Linked DNA regions of Homo sapiens. The protein of the gene in region 2 interacts with the protein of the main gene of each other region in a biochemical or structural test. Each region holds a gene or a part of one and is shown on either strand. Other genes may lie near its edges.

Region 1 (3,826 bases), on a different chromosome or scaffold from region 2:
TACAAAATATTTGGATAAAAAGCAAATTTCATCACATCGTATAATGTACAGATAAGGTTTATAAAGTAAATTAATTTATTTTTAGCACCATATATACAATCCAAACACTGCAAATTAATTTCTTTTCAAACTCAAAAGATAGTTTTCATTAATCATGATGGCACATCCTCTCTCTCAATAAACGCAAATGCTGTTTTATGGGCTGTGTGGTAATAGTTTAACATTTAGTAATTGATTATATAAAATTATGTTCTCAAGACTAGGCTGCATTTCCTTTAAAAAAAAAACAAAACCTCAGGTTAAAAATTAGCCAAAAATTTGTGATTACTATCACAAATAATCCAAGATTTAAATAACCAAGGGCCTCCAGAGGCCCCTGTTCTTCCTTTTGCCCTGTCTAAAATCCAATGAAATATATTAAGTGTTAAACTGGTATGAAGAGGTGGAACTAAATTCTTTGAAACACAAGGTGGAGTATCACTTTTTACTTAAACTTTGAGTCCTTTACATTTATAACTGCTATTCAAAAAAAATTAGACAAAGACATCTAGATTTAGATTAACGTGATCAAAGGGATTATTGTGGATCATTAAAGGAAACTTAACATTAAGCCTTCATGTACCAAATACTAATATTTAAATTAATTTCAAAATCTATAAAGGTATGTAATTATTAATTTGCAAAGGAGAAAACTGAGGCTCAGAAGTTGCACAAAACCATGAACTAGTGGAACTGAGCTTTACAAACCAAGGCTGTCCTCTACTATACATTATTTCTCCTCAGTACACAATAATAAATTGGTTCAAAATTATCTAGACCTTTAAAAAGTATATAATGGAAAGTGCTTTTAGTATTAAAGTTTTCATGAATGACCCTAACAAATTTTGTCTAAAAGTTTACTAAAATGCTGACATCATTTATAATCCTTCATTTATTTGTAAAAAGATGAGGACACACATTAAGTGAAGTGCAATTCATTTTGTCTTCTACAAAATAAGTTAATTTTAAGCAAACCAATCTCAATGATGATAAATGCATGTCATTATTTATTTAGATGTTTCAGCTCTCGCACTAAGTTTTTACAAGCTGGTGAACACTGACAAAATTATTTCTCCCACAGAACTATAACCACACATCCCCAGACAGTATAAATATATGGTTGAACTAACATTAATACACATCACCATTTTATCAATTACATAATAAAACAAATTGTCAAGTATCCAAATATTAAGTTACACAGCTCAAAAGGCATATAAAATATTAGATGTCTGCTCAATTCATTAGCAGAAACCCATTTCTTTTTTTGCAAGAGAGGTTGGGAAGGAAAAAAAAAATCACACTTTCAAACAAAAATAAGTTGGTAAACACACTTCTGATAAGTATGGGAAAAAAATTACAAGAATTTCAGGAAGTTTATGATTACAATAACAAAGCATCTCTACCTTTTAAAAAAATATTTTACTAAATTAAAGAGCATATTCTACATGTTTGCACAAGACAAAGGCAACATTTTGCTAAAAATAATTAATAGCCCCCTCCCATTCTTTTCTCAGGCCCTCCCTGTTAAGTTGCACCTCAGAGTGCAAACATTAAATTAATGTAAGGCTTTTTTGTCTGAAGACATTAAAGACATGTGCTTCTGTACAACGTAGATTTTCAAAATGGAGGTTTTTTTAATACAGCACAAAGTGAGATACATGGAAACACGTAAAATAATCACTGTAAGACTTGGTAAAAAAAAAAAAAAATCAATGGTTAAGCAAACCTGACGTATATTGGTATGAATGTGGGAGATGTAAACATAAAGTGAGCAGGCAAATAACCATGTAGGCCCTACTTTCAATGTTTGAAATGATTGAAGGAATAAACCACATAAGGTCTAGTGTTCATAGTTCCTGGGATTTTACTTCTGTATGGTACTAAAAATATACAAGTATTGTGCTGGGTATTTTGGCACCTAATCTTCCTAAATTTCTTATGTATTGATAAGATTCTGGCATGGGAATAGATTTAACAAGTCATAACTCAATACTGCATGATTTGGGGAAAGGTCAATTGATACAAATGACAAGCACATTTTATATGCTGACAGCAAGAATCTTTTGCCAAGTATCCAAATAGGTTGACTGTAACCCAAATACAGAGGTTGCCAAATCTGTCTAGCTTGAGGCCTGGTAAAACTGCCTTTCAATACTCCTATGGAAGCTTCATTAGACTTACTAAGCCAACATGTTGGCTAATATGTATAACAAATTAGGCCCTATCTCAAGTTCCACTTCCAGTAGCATTAGGCACCCCAATTTTATTGAATGCAACAGTTGTTTCTATGACCGTTGGAATCTTTGAAACGCAGCCGCATTTTAGGACGATACTTCTCCAAATACAGAAGTTGCTTGCTGTTAAAAGCTCCACGCCGCTTTCTGGGAGGAAAAAAAAAAAAAAATGAAACAAGGCAAAAGCCCCCTACAGTAATATTTAGTGTCTTATAGACAACCATCACCTCTCTTGTGGCAATTTATCTTTTGATTAATTAGGCTGTGACCTGATGCAGAAAGGAATATGAACAGGCACATCAGTGTAAATGGAAAAAATCATAAAAAGTTAATTTTCTTTATATCTTCGTTTGAGTATTGGTTACAACAGTCGACTCACAAATCCATTTACACGTAAGTCCACGAAAAGACAAAACTAATTTATAGTGAAGTCAGAAGTTGCCTCTGGTAGCAGGGAAGATGACTACAAAAGCCACAAAGGCATGTTCTACAGCACTCAAAATATTCTATGTGTTGTATTGGATGGTTAATTTGGCTGTTATTGTCAACTGGTCTCCTTTGGAGACCTGTGCATTTTATTGTATCTTTAAATGTATCTTAATTATACCTCAATAAAAATACAAAATAACCAACATATTCAATCAAGTATTTAAAGCAAAACAATAATTCAAAAACTCTTGTTGGATTAGAATCTTAGTAATATGAGCAACTGCATGAAATGCAAAAAAGAATGTAAGATCTTGATTTCCTGGTTTTAATACTATCTCAAAAAATAATCATAATGATTAAATGGGCTATTAGACTATTAAACTCACTGACACTCAACAAGGAAATGAAAGAGAGTACAAATGAAAAGAGAATCCATTACTTACTGTCTTATGAATTGTACTGCATCTTCGTATTTCATTCCACCTTCAATTAATGCTAGGGCAACAAGTACTGGAGCTCTGGTGAGGTAAGAATTTTGATAAATAGTTTTTTCAAAATCAGATCTTTGTAAATTTATTTCTCCAAACATTCCCCAACTCAGAAGTATTATCTACCACCCTTCCTATTTAAGTAATACCTATGACAAATGTTGACTTTATATTAAAAAATTATAAGAATTTTTCAAGTTTCTGTATTTTCATTATCAATAGATTTTTACCTAGAATCAAATTGATAAATTCATTTACCTCCCAAGGCCTGCAACGCAATGAACAGCAATACAACAACCAGGTTCTTCACGAAACTTAATTTTCACAAGACTTAACCAGTCATCAACAATCTGGTTGGATGGTGGTGCACCATCATCAAAAGGCCAATCCTAAGTCAGAAGAATATTTAAACATTTTAGATCATTAATATAAACACTGTAGTAATAATTCTAAATTTCTAACATGGAAATGTTTTCAAAAGCATTCTCATTTTAATGTTTAATCAAATCTTATTAAACCCTGTTGTCTACCAAATGTGACTAAATGCTCAATCTTTACAAAAATGTTTCACAACTTCAAATCCTTGCTTAGCTTTTCACCTTTATTTAGAAATTAAGATTCTGCACAATAATA
Region 2 (3,826 bases):
GGCGTGAGCCACTGTGGCAGGCCTATTCCATTATTTTTAATGTTCCTTTACCATGTAGTTGTACCACAGGTAAGTCTGATAGATATCAAGCTATAATTAAATGATATTATGAATGGCCAGTCCCTGGCCCGGGTTCAGTTAACATGTAAAACTACAAAGAAATCTTAAGACCCTCCTGACTAAAAATTAGCTAGGCATTAATGATTATAAAACATTATAAGTTATGCCACTCCACCTAAAGTGACACTAACATTTTACTACTAAACACAACTACCTGAGCTACATACAATGGTAACTCCATGTTGCTCATTAGTCAAATGTTTTTAAAATTTTTTTAGAGGGTCTCACTCTGTCACCCAGGCTGGAGGTGCCATGGCACAATCACAGCTCACAGCAGCCTTCAACTGCTGGCCTCAAGCCATCCTCCTGCTTCAGACTCCCAAATTGCCGGGATTACAGGTATGAGTCATCACACTCAGCAAGTCAAGGAGTTTTATTAAACATCGGATAGCCTCTATGGCTGCTTAAACAGAAATATGTGGAAAAAAGGCAAACGTTCCATAGTCAGTTGTATTTCTGACATCCTGATGAATGCCTGAGTCTTCTTTTAAGATTCAAATATGGCCGGGCGCAGTGGCTCACGCCTGTAATCCCAGCACTTTCAGAGGCCAAGCTGGGCGGATCAGGAGGTCAGGAGATCGAGACTACCCTGGCTAACATGGTGAAACCCCGTCTCTACTCAAAAAAAAAAAAAACCAAAAAATTAGCTGGGCATGGTGGCGGGCGCCTGTTGTCCCAGCTACTTGGGAGACTGAGGCAGGAGAATGGTGTGAACCCGGGAGGCAGAGCTTGCAGTGAGCCGAGATTGTGCCACTGCACTCCAGCCTGGGCAACAGAGCGAGACTCCGTCTCAAAAAAAAAAAAAAAAAGATTCAAATATTGCGTCCTCTGTGAAGCCATCTTTGTTACCCTCAGTACATTAACTGTTTTATTCTTTGTGTTTTCACAGCATATATTCATCAAACATTTTACTGAGCATCATCCATGTACCAGGCATGGGTACACAGAGAAGAAAACGGGAACCCTATCCTTAGGAAGCTCCCAGTTTAGGGGCTTTTTAACTGGGATATCTATCCTTACCTCATCCACAGGTTTATATGACCCTATGATTCTCTCAGAGGTAGTGACAGTGTCTTATTCATCATGTGTCAGGTACTTACATAATATCTATACCACACAGCAGGAACTAAATACATCTTTGCTATAATGAATATGTAAGGCCGGGTGCGGTGGCTCACACCTGTAATCCTAGCACTTTGGGAGACAGAGGTGGGCAGATCACATGAAGCCAAGAATTGGAGACTAGCCTGGGGAACATGGTGAAACCCCGTCTCTACTAAAAATACAAAAATGAGCTGGGCGTGGTGGTGCCCGCCTGTAGTCCCAGCTACTCGGGAGGCTGAGGCAGGAGAAAAAAAAAGAATAAGTAGTTTAATGGATTAACTATGTATCAGAGTTCTTGCAGGGACTAAGTGGAAAACTGACCGTATATAGATTATATACTGATAAACAGTCCTTATCCTCTTTAGCCCATCAACAGGATTTGTTTTTTTGGTATTTTTTTAGACAGAGTCTTGCTCTATCACCCAGGCTGGAGTGCAGTGGCACTATTTTGGCTCACTGCAATCTCTGCCTCCTGGGTTCAAGCGATTCTCCTGCCTCAGCTTCCCAACTAGGTGGGACTACAGATGCACGCCACCATGCCTGGCTGATTTTTTTTATTTTTAGTAGAGATGGGGTTTCACCGTGTTAGCCAGGATGGTCTCGATCTCCTGACCTCGTGATCCGCCCGCCTCAGCCTCCCAAAGTGCTGGGATTACAGGCGTGAGCCACCGAGCAACAGGATTTAAAATCACTGAACTTCTTGAAACACTTTTTTATTTTGATTTACAGAATACCACATTTGGCTCTGTAGCTGGTTTTCCTCCTCACTTCCTGGTTGTTTCTTCTCAGTCTCTTGTGGGTTCTTTCTCATTTCTATGAACTGTAAATGTTGGAGTACCCCATGGTTCATTCCTGGGACTTCTCTTTTTCTAGCTCTGCTGTCTCCCTTGGGAACTTCATCTGGTTTCAATGCTTTAAAAACTAACTATGGCCAGGTGTGGTGACTCACACATGTAATTCCAGCACTTTGGGAGGCCAAGGCGGGCAGATCCCTTAAGTCCTGGAGTCTGAGACCAGCCTGGCCAATATGGCAAAACATCATCTCTAAAATAACAAAAAAAAATTAGCTGGGCATGGTGGTGCACGCCTGTGGTCCCAGTTACTCAGGCTGAGTGGGGAGGATCACTTGAGAGCCTGGGAGACAGAGGTGGACCCTGCCTCCAAAAAATCCCAAACCAAACAAAACCAAAACTAGCTATATGCTGCCGACTCCCAGAGTTTTATCTTCAGCCTTTCCTCTGAATTACAAATCCATATAACCAACTGACTGCTTGACATCTCCACCTGTAAGCCTAATAGGCTCCTTAAACTCAGTTTGTCCAAAACTGAGTTCCTGATATACCTCCCAAACCATTTCCCCTACACTTTACCCTATCTCAATTAATGACAACTTCATTCTTGTGGTTGCTTAAGCCAGAAACTTTGGTGTAATTTTTTATTCTTTTTCTCATATATACCATCCCATCTGCTCTCATCACTTTAACTTCAAAACATATCCTGGATTCAGCCTGCTCTCGTCACTTTCACTACCGTCATCCCTTGCTTGTATTACCGTAACAGCCCCTAAGTGGACTGCCTGCTTCTGCCCTTGTACCCCTGATGTCCTGTTCAAATGTAAGTCAGATCAATTTTTTTTTTTTTTTTGAGACGGAATTTCCCTCTTGTTGCCCAGGCTGGAGCGCAATGGCACCATCTCAGCTCACTGCAACCTCCGCTTCCCAGGTTCAAGTGATTCTCCTGCCTCAGGCTCCCAAGTAGCTGGGATTACAGGCGCATGCCACCACGCCCAGCTAATTTTTTGTATTTTTAGTAGAAGCAGTTTCACCATGTTAGCCAGGCTGGTCTCGAACTCTCGACCTCAGGTGATACGCCTGCCTTGGCCTCCCAAAGTGCTGGGATTACAGGCATGCGCCCAGCCTAGTCAGATCAATTATATCACTTTTCTGCTGAAAACCCTCTAATGGCCCCCAGTGTGGAGTAAAAGCTGAGATCCTCACCATGACTGATGAGACCCTACATAAAATGCTGCTATTACGTCCCCTACTTGTCTCCAACTACTCTCCACCCCCAACTCCAGCTGAGCCTCCTTGATGTTCCTAGATGTACCAGGTACCTTGCGACTTTGCATCTTTGCAGTTGCTGATCCTCCTCCCTATAGTACTTTTCTTCCATATAAATGCATATAGCTCCCTCACTTCCTTCAGGTCTTTATTCAAAAGCCACCTAATCTAAAATTTCTATCCTGCTGCTAACATTTCATATTACCCTTCCCTGTTTTATTTTTCTTCTAACATTTACTGTTATCTAACATGTCATATATTTTACCTATTTATCTTGTTTATTGTCTGTCTCACCCACTAAAATATAAGCTCCTCAAGGGCAGGGATTTAATCTAATTTATTTGGTTCCCTATTATATCCCCAGCATGAAAAACAGTGACTGGCACAGAATAGACATTCCATCAATATCTGCTTAATGAATGAATGCACCCTGAAGTACATATTAAAATTAAAATTTAAGTAGAGATGTTTAAAATTGGTGATATAGTTACTCCTTTTCTATGGGAACACATCTCTGAAATAATACAGTGGAAAAATAATAC

What was found.
Region 1: the proteins of ATF7 (region 2) and PTP4A1 form a complex in vitro, tested with the Homo sapiens proteins (one study listed by BioGRID).

The regions. Positions count from the first base shown.
Region 1 is NC_000006.12:63,578,654-63,582,479, reverse strand, and holds part of PTP4A1 (protein tyrosine phosphatase type IVA 1), read right to left. Parts: exon of another isoform or gene 3,583-3,826; coding exon 3,452-3,582; exon of another isoform or gene 3,224-3,451; coding exon 3,149-3,223; exon of another isoform or gene 2,467-3,148; coding exon of another isoform or gene 2,424-2,466; coding exon 2,306-2,423; coding exon of another isoform or gene 2,269-2,305; 3' UTR 1-2,268. UniProt on the Homo sapiens protein: Protein tyrosine phosphatase which stimulates progression from G1 into S phase during mitosis. May play a role in the development and maintenance of differentiating epithelial tissues.
Region 2 is NC_000012.12:53,518,142-53,521,967, forward strand, and holds part of ATF7 (cyclic AMP-dependent transcription factor ATF-7), read right to left. Parts: intron 1-3,826. UniProt on the Homo sapiens protein: Stress-responsive chromatin regulator that plays a role in various biological processes including innate immunological memory, adipocyte differentiation or telomerase regulation.